Linked DNA regions of Homo sapiens: regions 1 and 3 are each linked to region 2. The links come from fine-mapping of genetic effects on gene expression. A gene starts in region 2. Each other region holds a variant in brackets. All regions are shown on one strand. Distances are between the middles of the regions. Region 1 has its middle 44 kb from the start of GMPR. Region 2 holds the start of MYLIP (myosin regulatory light chain interacting protein). Region 3 has its middle 110 kb from the start of LINC02543.

Region 1 (4,276 bases), 66 kb after region 2:
TCTTGGAGAAAGTGTGTTTTTTTGTTTTGTTTTGTTTTTTTGGAGACAGGGTCTCACTCTGTCACCCAGGCAGGGGTGCAGTGGTGCAATCTCAGCTCACTGCAACCTCCGCCTCCTGAGTTCAAGCAATTCTCCTGTCTCAGCCTCACAGGTAGCTAGGACCACAGGCGTGCACCACCATGCCTGGCTAATTTTTTGTATTTTTAATAGAGACGGGCGATCTCACTATGTTGCCCAGGCTGGTCTTGAACTGCTGAGCTCAGGCAATCCGCCCACCTCGGCTTCCCAAAGTGCTAGGATTATAGGGATAAGCTACCACACCCAGCTGGAGAAAGTGTGTTTTAATGGGGTAATAATATATTTCATTTTATTTATTTTTTGAAGAGAGAAGATCCCACTATGTTGCCCAGGCTGATCTTGAACACTTGGGCTCAAGTGATCCTCCCTCCCCAGCCTCCTGAGTAGCTGGGATTACGAGCATGAGCCAGTGCACTCAGCTGCTGGGATAACACTAGGTTTAAAAATCCTTTCTGGCTGGGCGCGGTGGTTCATGCCTGTAATCTCAGCACTTTGGGAGGCTGAGGCAGGCGAATCACGAGGTCAGGAGAGCGAGACCATCCTGGCTAACAAGGTGAAACCCCATCTCTACTAAAAATACAAAAAATTAGCCAGGTGCAGTGGCCCACATCTGTAATCCCAGCACTTTGGGAGGCCGAGGTGGGCGGATCACGAGGTCAGGAGATTGAGACTATCCTGGCTAACACGGTGAAACCCTGTCTCTACTAAAAATACAAAAAAATTAGCCGGGCATGGTGGTAGGTGCCTGTCGTCCCAGGTACTCGGGAGGCTGAGGCAGGAAAATGGTGTGAACCCGGGAGGCAGAGCTTGCAGTGAGCCGAGATCGCGCCACTGCACTCCAGCCTGGGTGACAGAACGAGACTCTGTCTCAAAAAAAACAAGCAAAAACAAACATTTTATTTAGAAATAATTTTAAATTTATAACAGACTGTCAAGGATTCTATAGAGAACTCCCCTATTCCCTTTACCCAAATTCACCATATCCATTTTTAACATTTTGACACACTTGAGCTCTTGTGTGTGCATGCACTCTCTCCTCACTCTCTCTGTCTGCACAGACACACACATTAAGTTTTTCTGGGTCATTTAAAAGTACTTTGCAGACTTCATGACCCTTTACTCCTCAGCGTATATTTTTTCAGTGTATATTTTCTAAGAACAAGAAAGTAATAAAATTCAGATAACTTAATATTGACATAATACCTTAATCTATAATCTTATGCCAAATTTACCAATTGTCCTAATAATATCCTTTAAAGCAGTTTTTGGTACATTATCCAGTCCAATAACACACTGATGTCCTAATAATTGTCCTAATAATATCCTTTAAAGCAGTTTTTGGTACATTATCCAGTCCAATAACACACTGATGTTCCTTAGAGGCTCTAGGGAACAAATGCATTATTTCGAAAACGTTTCATTGTCACAAATTACTTTATTTTTAATGTGGGCTTTGAATAGTTTATTCTAGAACCAACCACCCCATTCCTCTTAAAGAGATCAGCCTAGTCTTGAAAAGTCCAGGTTTGTGAAGACACATTTCCTTACCCATTCTCTGAAGTGTCAAGTTCCTATTTCAAACACATACACACAAAAAAAATTCAGAGGAAAATATTTGGAAATGTTCCTATTTGTTGTGTGCC[C/T]GTGGCCTAGGAGGTGACAAGAAACAAAATTGTTCCCTGCTTCTCTGTCAAAATCCTGGCATGTAGACCCTCTGTTTTCTCAATTCGTTATAGAATTTCAACTGCTGAATGAGCATTCTTTAACCTGAGCTGACCATTTGGAATTTAAAATTAGCAGAGTAATTATATTTACTGGGCCACTGATTCAAGGGAAATTGAGCTCAGCTGATGAATTTGCATGTCGTGAAATGGGTCATGACAGCAGATGGTCTTCCAAGAAGCAAAAAATAACTTTGAAGTTGGTTGCTCTTTCTCCTTGACTTCTTCCATTGAACCCCGCTGCAATAATGTGAATGCTGAAAGCAGGTCAAGTGAATTTGGGATGTCTGGATGGATAATCAAGGAGAGTTGTTAGTTGTCAAAGAAGAATATTTTGATCTTAAAATCAATCACCATATATCGAGATCTGATTATAAAGCTAATGCTGTGTTCAATCACCATCATCATTAACATTTATTAAGCGCTCGCTTGCACAGGTGCTATTCTAAATGCTTTACATGTATTGACTTGTTTAATCTGCACCAAAACCTATAAGCAAGGATTATTATCATCTGCATTTTACAAATGAGAAAATTGAAAGTAAGAAAATAAATTGACCAAGTTCAAATAAGGTGTTTTGGTTTTTGCTTTTTGTCATATGAAATAAGTGAAGCCTGAGGAGATTTTGTCTATATTAAACTCAGAAATGTCATATTTAGATTGTGGTTTCTAAATACCATTTCCCACTAAAAGAAACCAGGGCACTTTGGAGAAATGGCTGATTTGATATCTGGAGCTGGAAATGTACAAGATGAGCATAGAACATCTTGTCATACCACATGGCAGGAAAATGACTGGGATCGTTTTTTAAGGCTGAAGAGCTCTTATTGAGCAAAGAGGAACAAATTTGAGCATCAATAAAGAGAAGAATTAAAATGGATGTAAACAAATAGAAAATATTTGTTGAAACACATGGACTGTATTTAAATCCATTGGTTTATAATAACACTGAAACAGAAACACATTTGGTATTCTTTAGAGGCTCTAGGGAACCGATGCACTATTTTGAAAACTGATCAATAGGGAGAAAGAATCAAGCATTTTTTTCTTTCATTTTTTATATGAACTGTATCTCAGTGTAACCAAATATTTAACAAGGGCAAGTTTCTTTTTACATAAGTAATCTACCCAACAAATGAAGAAGAAATAATTAAAATATCACTATTTGAATCATTAAGGAATTAATGTTTCTCAGCAATGATCAACAATGGCTGGTAACATTTAGAAAGTGACATTTTATGATTCTTGATGGAAGTATTCCACACTACCTATATAATAGTCTTGCAAAAAAAAAAAAAATCTGTTCAAGCACCTGTATCTAACAGAAAATACAGAGGACAGAGGAGCATGTTAAGCAACACTGTGGGGATGAAATCAGAAAAATCCACACTATGAGAAACTCAGGACAAAGGGTCTATTTCTTCTATACAACAACAATCACAAGAATGAAAGACAAATGTAAGGAGGGAGAATATTTACATTAAAAGAGACTTGAGGATTGGGCATGATGACTCACACCTGTAATCCTAACACTTTGGGAGGCTGAGGTGGGAGGATCTCTTGAGCCCAGGAGTTGAAGACCAGCCTGGGGAACATAGCGTGACCCTATTTAAATATTTTAAAAAGAGAGAGAAACTTAAGAACTTATTATTAGCCAACAGTAATATATAGAGCTTTGTGGATCCTATTTCAAATGCACTTTAAAACAAAAAACAACAAAGCAAATTAGAACCAGAACATTTATAGATAATCAGGAAAATAGGAACATGGATATTAAAGAATTAGAATTACAATTTGGGGGATAAGATGATGATGTAATTACATTTAAAATAGAGTCTTCAGAGATACATACTAAAATATTTCAAATAAAATTATATGGTGTCTAAGGGTTGCTTCAAAATAATTGGGAGAAGCCAGGTACAGTGACCCAAGCTTGAAGTTTCAACTACTCAGGAGGCTGAAGCAGGGGAGACTGCTTGAGCCCAGGAGTTTAAGTACAGCCTAGGCAACTTAGTGAAACCATGCCTCTAAAAAAAAAATAAAAATAAAAATAATTGGGAGTGACTGGGGAAATGCATGGGGATATAAAGAAAAAAATAACTAATAACCATTACTGAGCTGGATGATAAGTATGTGGAGTTCATTATATTATTCTCTCCACTTTCACATATATTTGAAATATTCCATATAAAAAATGTTTTAATATGGTTCACACATCCAGAAATGCAAGTTTATTTGTGGCTGTATGATATAATGCAATGTTTCTTAAAATACATTCTTTGCAACATTAGTTCCAAATAATAGACTGGTTCCCATTAATAGATTTCCTTCATATAACAGATTCTGAGATTAGATTAGAAAATGCTAAAGTAGGCAGCAAAACGGCTGAATAGAAGGTTCTGGGCCAGGTGCACTGGCTCACATCTGTAATCCCAACACTTTGGGAGGCTGAGGCAGCCAGATCACCTGAGGTTGGG
Region 2 (4,161 bases):
TTTAAATAAAATAAACATGTCAGATTTTACCTATGCTTCTACAAACTATTTTACAAGCTTAGATTTTTTAAAAAAACAATGAAATCATACTTGCAAAAGAAAAATCCCTGCTAAAACCAAAAATATAAGTTATTTTTAAAGTAGTCCACAAAGTGGGTATTTGGTTTGGGTGTTTGCTTGTTTTATTTTTGTTTATTTTTTTTTTCTTGGCCAACCAATATTTTCCCGTTCTACTCATTTCCACACCTGGTCCCATTGATTCTATGAGTTTCCAGTTAGCCAGCTTTAGTTTCTATTGTTCATAAACAAAAATACTAACCAATATAACTGGTCTCCCTATTGCCCCTCGCCTCTTCTTCCTCTTCTGAAACTTCTAGCAATTAAGCATAAAGTAGACAAGGAATGAACCAAACGCTATCTTCCAGATAAATTCCCCAGATTATTAGTAAACTGGAATTCAGGGAATAGGCACTGCAGTTAATACAAGAAGGGACTGTTTCAGCCCACAATAGCATGAGGTGTATTTATAAGACAGAAAGATGTGAGAGTGCACCTGTTCCTCTGCAACAGTGGGGGTTAGGACTTGGACAGTTTACAGTTTTACTCGGTCAGCTTTAGCAAAGAACTGTGTGTGGGAGGATCCCTCCTTTTTTTTTAGCCTTGGGCTCTGATATCGTACCTGGTTGTTCGGAAATAAAGGCCACTAACAGATCCTTGGGACTCGTGAAGGGGGGTAGGGACAGGAAAAGTCATCATTAAGCAGTGAAGGCACTGAACTTATAGCTCCCCTTACATACACGGGGACATTCAAATGCTTTTGTGAACGTTATTATCTTTGCTGCGCTTCCCAACAATGCTGGGTGGAGACAGAGCAGATATTGCCATCTCCATTTTACTGTTGACAACACCAAGCTTCAGACAGATGAAGTAAGTTTTCTCTTTTTTTTTCTTTCGTTGTTTTCTTTTTGTTGTTGTTGTTGTTTAGAGACAGGGTCTTTTGCTCTGTCGCCTAGGCTGGAGTGCAGTAGGGGGATCACAGCACACTGCAGCCTCGAACTCCCAGGCTCAAGTGATCCTCCCACCTCAGCCTCCCATGTAGCTGAGACTACAGGCAGGCGCCACCACGCCTGGCTAATTTTTTGTATTTTGTGTAGAGATGGGGTTTCGCTGTGTTGCGAAACCGGGCTGGTCTCAAACTGCTGGGCTCAGGCGATCCTCCTGCCTCGGCCTCCAAAAGTGCTGGGATTACAGGTGTGAGCCATCGAGCTGGCCTGAAGTAAGTTTGCTAAGTTTCCACGGCTGAAACCCACATCATCTGGCTCCTATAAAGAAATCAAAAAGGTAGGCTATGTAATATATTGGCAAAGAGGAACAAGCGGTAAATGAGTGAAGGGTTGTAGACCTTTAATAGCTAATATTGCAGTAATGCCACCTGTTAGGTCAGGAGATGAGCACCTTACCTTAAGACGAGGACAACATCTGGTTGCCTGTGAGAAGGGACAGGCAGGGTATCAGGTGCTGCACAAATGTTTAATGAATGAGTGAGATAAGACAGGAGGTAGAATGAGCAACCTGAGAGAGGGCCTGGTACCCTGTAAGGCGTTTTGATTCAGCAGAACGAGTAAGGAGAAGCCCTTCCGGAGTGTAACACACCAGCACTAGACCAAGACACCTGGCTCACTGGTCAGCTGCAAAAACTTTCATACTCAGATTTTGTTTTTCTCAATGATGAGGTCTTAATAAGGAACAACAATTCTGCCTCCAAGCAACCCACTGTGGCTAATCCTGGTGGAAAAGAGTTTTCTTTTTCTCTTTTTTTTTTCTTTTTTCTTTTTCTTTTCTTTTTTTTTTTTTTTTTTTTTTTTTTTTTGAGACAGGGTTTTTTGCTCTTCTTGCCCAAGCTACAGTGCAGTGACACAATCTCAGCTCACTGCAACCTCCGCCTCCTGGGTTCAAGCGATTCTCCTGCCTCAGCCTCCCAGGTAGCTGGGATTACAGGTGCCCGCCACCACGCCTGGCTATTTTGTTTTTTTTTTTGTATTTTTAGTAGAGACGGGGGTTTCACCATGTTTGCCAGGCTGGTCTCGAATCTGACCTCAGGTGATCCACCCATCTCGGCCTCCCAAAGTGCTGGGATTACAGGCGTGAGCCACCATGCCCGGACGAGAACAGTTTTCTTTAGGCTTTGGGTTGCTCCTTTTCCTTTTTGCTTTCACAACCGAAATGCGTGCTCAGAGTGATCCAAGATATTTGAAGAACAGTGGCAGCTTGGAGGTGTTTAATCACCGTAAATTCGAGACGGCAGAAAGGCGTCCCCGCCTGGAGCCCCGGGCGATCGCTCACTCTGAGCAGCGTCGCCCAGCGGACAGAGGCGGCTGGTGTGTTCCGGGGTCTCCCTCCCTTCCCGCAGCACTCGGCGCCCGCAAGCTGCCACCTCCCGGGGCGGCCAGGGAAACTCAGCCGGCTCTGGGAGGCGGGGGCCGCGGTCGAGGGGCGCCGCTATTGGCTGATCGGGCGGGGGAGGAGGGGCAGGGAGGCCGTGATTGGCGGGGACCCGAGCTGAAGGGGGCGGGGCCGCTATATCAGCAGAGTCCCTGTCGCAGCGCAGGCAGTTGGGCTGCTGGAGTGCGGCGCCACCGCGGAGGACAGGGGCAGCTGGCGGGCAGCGGGTGAGGGGGTGGCGGGGACGCGAGTGGCGGCCGCGGGGCCCCGGACAAGGGTCCGCAGAGCTGCAGCCTTCGAGGGCCAGCCCTCTCCGAGTCCGGGGCTGGGTCCCACCAGTGACAAGGCGGCAGCCCCGCGCACACCAAAGAGAAGGCGGCTGTGGCGGCAGCGGCAGCCCCAGCCATGCTGTGTTATGTGACGAGGCCGGACGCGGTGCTGATGGAGGTGGAGGTGGAGGCGAAAGCCAACGGCGAGGACTGCCTCAACCAGGTGAGGGCGAGGGGCAAGAAGGGGCCCCGGCGGGTCCCGCGAGGCCGAGGGGCCTCGCAGCGACGCCTGGCACTCTGGCGCGCCCCCTACTAGGGGCCGGGAGGCACTGCGGCGGCAGCCGGGGGGAGCGCGTCCCCTCCTCTCCACGGGCGTGGGGCGCGCGGTCTCCTCCTGGCGCGCGTGGGGTGCGCGGAGAAAGCGCGCAGCGGGGGTCCCCAGCGCTGAGGGCCGGGCGCAGCCCGCAGCCGGGATCCACCCCCCAGCGCCCCATCATCCCCCCAACCCAGCACTTTCCCGGAAGAAGGCGGCTCCGCACACCTGCCGCAGGTATGTGCGTGATGCCGCCTGTCGGGTCCCCGCGGCGCCTGGCAGTGCCACCCGCGTGCCAGGATGGGATGGAGTGGCTCGAAGCAGTCTCGGGCCCCAGGGGTTCTTGGCAGACAAGCCGGGCCCTTGTCTCACGCTGCTTCTCAGGCTGCTGCTCTCAAATGCACCGTTCACCTGCATCTCCGGGTTTGCGGGGGACGGGAGGAATAGGTTTGGGTCATCTACTGCTCGGTTGTTTTTAAGCATGTGTTTCCTTAACAGTGAGGGAGATCGGTGCCAAATAGTGCAGAGGTGGTATGGCAGACAGCACATGTGATCCCAGGAAAACGCTGTGCCCTCAACCCCTCTAGCTCTGAGATGTTTGGAAAACCGCTTGTGAAGCTTAGCTGACACTTGTGGCGTGTTCCCTCAATGTGTTTGATTTTTGGAGTCCAAATGGTTAAAATTGCCCAGATAATAAGTCGCCAAAAATCAGCTGTGCAGAGTATGCTGGTGGAGGGAATTCCGGTGATTGGAATACGAAGGAAAATACCCTGTAGTTTCCCCTCCTCATCTTTTGGAAGGCTACTTTTGAGGACTCCTTTTTTCTCTATTGCAATTGGTCATGCCCTAGACGTTAAAAGGAATTATGAGCCTCCATACTAGAGCTCGTGGTTTGGTATCATTGGAGCCGTGGAACTTTGTTTTTCCAGTTTAGATCAGGAATTGTAACACCATTGAACTTTGTAAAAAGCACCAGCAATCTTAGCCTCAGGGAGCCGTTGGGTTTGCTTTGATACGTACCATTTGCTCATCCAGGCTGCATTCCTTTTTGTTTTAGGTGTGCAGGCGACTGGGAATCATAGAAGTTGACTATTTTGGACTGCAGTTTACGGGTAGCAAAGGTGAAAGTTTATGGCT
Region 3 (4,276 bases), 240 kb before region 2:
CTATACTTGTCTCTATTTCCCACTGGCATCTGAGTCCTGGGAAACAGGTCTGGATCTGACCCATGCATAGTGGTATTCCAAGGCCAAGCATAGGGTGTGATAAGTTGCAATCACTTAATAATATTTTTAAATTGAATATAATAATAGTCAGAAAGGGGAATTTTTTTTTAATAGCCAGGCTCTCAGAAAACAAGTCAGTTATTAAGAACTTATCATCAGTTCACACTGTACTTTGGGTCATTTTTCCAAGGTCAGAGATCAAGTTGTATAGCTTAAGCCTCCTTGTCTGCCTCCTTTGGTGAGGTAGTATGCTATGACTTTTCATTTCTTTTCTTTTTTTCTTTCTTTCTATTTTTTGGTGGGCGGTACCATTGCTTATTTTAATTTTTCAGTTGTGTATCAATAAGGCTGAACAGTTTCTGAAGTACCAGGAATCTATATTAATATTATAATTGCAAAGTGAGTAAACTTACTCTTCCATGGTAATAAGTAATTCAGTTCCTGTCCAAAGCGAGAAATGTCATTCGTGACACTGATTTCACAAATTAAATGCTATCAGCTACTTGAATTAAATAAGGAAACATATCACTAATGGAATTTAAATTAAGGTAACAATAGTAACTCTAATTTAATAAGGGTGGACCTCATGCTAGGCACACTGTAGATTTTTTGCTGATCTTTACCATTATCCTAGAAAGATACGAATGATTATTTCTGTGTTCAGATGAGGACATAGAGGTTCAAAGGGCGAGGGATTGAACCAATGCCACTAAGCCTGGACATCAGAGAGCCAGAACGGGCATCAAAGTCTGTGTCTCCACAAAGCCAAGCCCCTTCCCCCATATCACACAGCATCTCAAACACCATAACTAAAGAAATAGCACAATGCCTTTAAAAAGTATTTTCCTTATTTTTTTCTTTAATTTACCCTGGTCTATCACTTAAAAAAATCATTTTTATTGTTTTAAAATTATAACCTTTACTATTTTTTTACATGGTATTGGATATTTACTAAAAAGAGTATAATAAAGTAGTATGTTATTCATGATAAGTGCTAAAAGGAAAAACAAAGCAATGTAAGGGGATGGGAGGGGACAAGTCTGGATGTTTCGTTAGAAGAGGAGTTCAGAGGAACTTTCTTTGATAAGATGATATTTGAACAGAAACCTCAGTGAAAGGAGGGAGGGAATCTGTGGAGATATCGGGGGTAGAAGGTGGGGAAAGAGGGGTCCCGGGCAAGGTGCACCTGCCTCAGTGTGTACATTCACACCTAATTTGTAGCATATCCCAAGCTATAATATGGCTGTTTACATTTTAGAAGAGATTCCCCTACATTTTATGGAGCTTATGAATTGAAAAAGTTCTCTTAAGTCCTCAAAACAACCGATTTCTCTTGACTTCCAGACCCCCAAGAGCAAGCTGCACCTTTGCCTGCTTCCTGTTGACTCTGAATGAGGAGAAGGTTGCTCAAGCACGCACTCCCACTAGTGAAGCTCAGCAGAGAGCTGGTGATTGGGGACTTAATGAGATGGCACCTGTGAAACCCAAGTACATGCATGAAAGCTTATTGCTATTTTGGTTTTTGTAAGATTGAAAGTCAGGGGCACTCAGCATGGTCATATTTATCAAGCAGAAAGACATAATTCTCTTGTGTATTAGAAGTAAAGGTCCCATTCAAAGCGCATGTGTATTTCTATCTCTCCAGGCATGCTGGGGCCCGTTAGACCAAATACCACGTGGATGGTCTCAGCAGACAGAAAAACTCCACGGAGTTCTATCTGGGTAGAGGAAGGCCATCAAAGGGAGATATTGTCCAGGGCCTGAAAGTGGCACCAAAAAAAGAAAGGGTGGATCTTCACACAGGATGGGTGGAGGGGAAAGGAGGGAAGCTATTTAGCT[A/G]GAAACAAAACAAACCCACCCAGAATGAAATTGCACAATAAAAGGAGGAACAGAGAGTTCACAGTGCCAATTCGAGAATAAGTTCAATGCATATTCTAGCAAATTAGTAAATAAAACAGGATGAAATAGTGGATCAAGAAGGATTATTAATGAAAAGAACCATGACTTTGGGTTGCTAGGCTCCAGCTTGAGAGTCGCCAGCAGGACTAGATATGTCTGGTTAAGGTGGGTGGAAGCTGTCTCCATGTTCACAGTCATGTCTGCAAAAATAGAATTGGGATGATGAGAAAAGCCTGAAGGAAAATAAGCTGCTCTTCTACTCTCTCCATTCCTTGTGCATTGCTTCAATTTAACCTTACTAAACAAGCGCCGGCCTGCAGAAAGATGAGTGGTGTTTTCTATTCAATTAATCATTGAGGTGCTCTCCCAAAGAAACCGTCTGTCAATAAGACACATTTGGAATGATGACAGGAGACCATGGACTATTAAACAGTAGAATGATGTGGATTTTCAGCTCACTTTCAAGGTTTCAGAGAGCACATACAACAAACACTTTCCTTCTAAAGACTCTAGGACCCCCACACTGTTGAATAAATGACTGTGTGTGTGTGTCTCTCTCCATCTCTCTCTCTCCTGCTCTGCAACATTTATGAAAAACTAGTGCAAAAATTGTGCATGGTTATGGATTCTCAAATCAAGTTTCCCCTGGGTTATCATTCAGATGAACTTAGCAAGAGAATCTTATTGGTGATAATAATTATGATAATGAAAGTAACTTCCAGGCTGCGTGTGGTGGCTCATATCTGTAATCCCAGCACTTTGGGAGGCCGAGATGGGAGGATTGCTGGAGCCCAGGAGTTTGAGACCAGCCTGGGCGACATAAGGAGACCTCATCTCTAAAAAAAAATTAAAAATTAGCTGGGCCTGGTGGCTCACGTCTACTTGGGAGGCTACTTGGGAGGCTGAGGCAGGAGGATGGCTTGAGCCCAGAAGGTTAAGCCTGCAGTGAGCCATGATTGCACCACTGCACTCTAGCCTGAGCCTGGGCAACAGAGTGAGATCCTGTCTCCAAAAAAAAAGTAACCTCCAATATTTGCACAGGTCCTTATGGTTCATACTTAGTCCCCACAAGAACGCTTAGGTAGTACATATCCCCATTTTATACCTAAGAAAGCTGGCTTAGGCACACGCTGCCAGAATTTGGAAGCAGTCAGCAGAGCAGTCCTAGGGAGTGCTAGGTCTGAGCGGGACTGGACCCTTTATCTCCCTCTGCTTTCCTCTCTGCCCTGGCCAGAGAAGAGCACCAAACACATGCTGTCAATCCTCACTCTGTCTCCACAGGGACGCCAAACGTCCTGTGCTACTAACAGACTTTCCACATGTGGAACTCCTTATGGCTCACAGCAGTTGGGAGACAACGACACTGCTGATCAACCAACTGCTCTGCTGCTGGTCTTAACAAGCAATGATAAAAAAGACCCATCAACTTCTGAGGTCGGCCTCCCAGAAGACAAAGCCTTTGTTCCCAATGTGGAATCAAGTCCTTGAGGGCGCCAGCTCTGTGTCTGTGCTTCCTTCAGCACCCTGCTCTTTTCCTCTTGCCAAATAGAAACCTTTTGAACTAGCATTTCTCAAAGTACTCACCAGAATGTTCCAGAAGATGTTAGGCAATGGAATGTGGAGAGGGTGGTGGGAGGATTCTGTGATCAAATGTGCTTGAGAAATGCTCTTGAAGATTTACATGCACACTAGTATAGTAAAGTTTCTGAGGAATCCCACAGTAAAGAACTATTTAATTTTATTTATTTTTGTGGTTCAGATTCTCCTTTTCTTTCTCCTCTGAACCCTACCCATGTCTAGTGGAATATTTCTTTACCCATTATAGAATTGTAAAATTATGCAACCCTCCAAAATAATATCAGAGCAAGGCCAGGCGTGATGGGTCATGCCTGTAATCCCAGCACTTTGGGAGGCCAAGGCGGGCAGATAACCTGGGTCAGGAGTTCAAGACCAGCCTGAACAACATGGCGAAAGCCTGTCTCTACTGAAAGTACAAAAATTACCTAGGCATGGTCATGTGTGCCTGTAATCCCAGCTACTCAGGAGGCTGAGGCAGGAGAATCACTTGAACCTGGGAGGCAGAGGTTGCAGTGAGCCAAGATCGTGGCATTTCACTCCAGCCTGGGCGACAGAGTGAGACTCTGTCTCAAAATAAACAAACAAACAAAAAAAGACAAAATAATATCAGTGCATAGAATGTTCTGGAAATGCCTAGCTTCCTGAACATGGCCTGGTATACAGTAGGGCTTACAGTTGTTGAACATTTTTAGGTATTTTATAAATCAATCCCCAGTATTTATGTAAAAGAATGAAACTA

Evidence for each region. PIP is the estimated chance that this variant, and not a neighbour inherited with it, causes the effect.
Region 1: its variant is fine-mapped to the expression of MYLIP in aorta (GTEx, PIP above 0.99). The same link has a PIP of 0.9 or more in tibial artery.
Region 3: its variant is fine-mapped to the expression of MYLIP in whole blood (TOPMed, PIP 0.93).

Annotation. Positions count from the first base shown.
Region 1 is chr6:16,192,036-16,196,311 of GRCh38, forward strand. No RefSeq gene overlaps it. Among named protein-coding and RNA genes, the nearest start is that of GMPR, 44 kb to the right of the region's middle. The variant C/T (reference allele first, on the strand shown) is at 1,722.
Region 2 is chr6:16,126,476-16,130,636 of GRCh38, forward strand. It overlaps MYLIP (myosin regulatory light chain interacting protein), which reads left to right and starts at 2,611. Exons shown (of 7, transcript NM_013262.4): 1 at 2,611-2,934; 2 at 4,082-4,161. The coding sequence starts at 2,848. RefSeq lists a silencer at 2,293-3,292.
Region 3 is chr6:15,886,070-15,890,345 of GRCh38, forward strand. No RefSeq gene overlaps it. Among named protein-coding and RNA genes, the nearest start is that of LINC02543, 110 kb to the right of the region's middle. The variant A/G (reference allele first, on the strand shown) is at 1,900.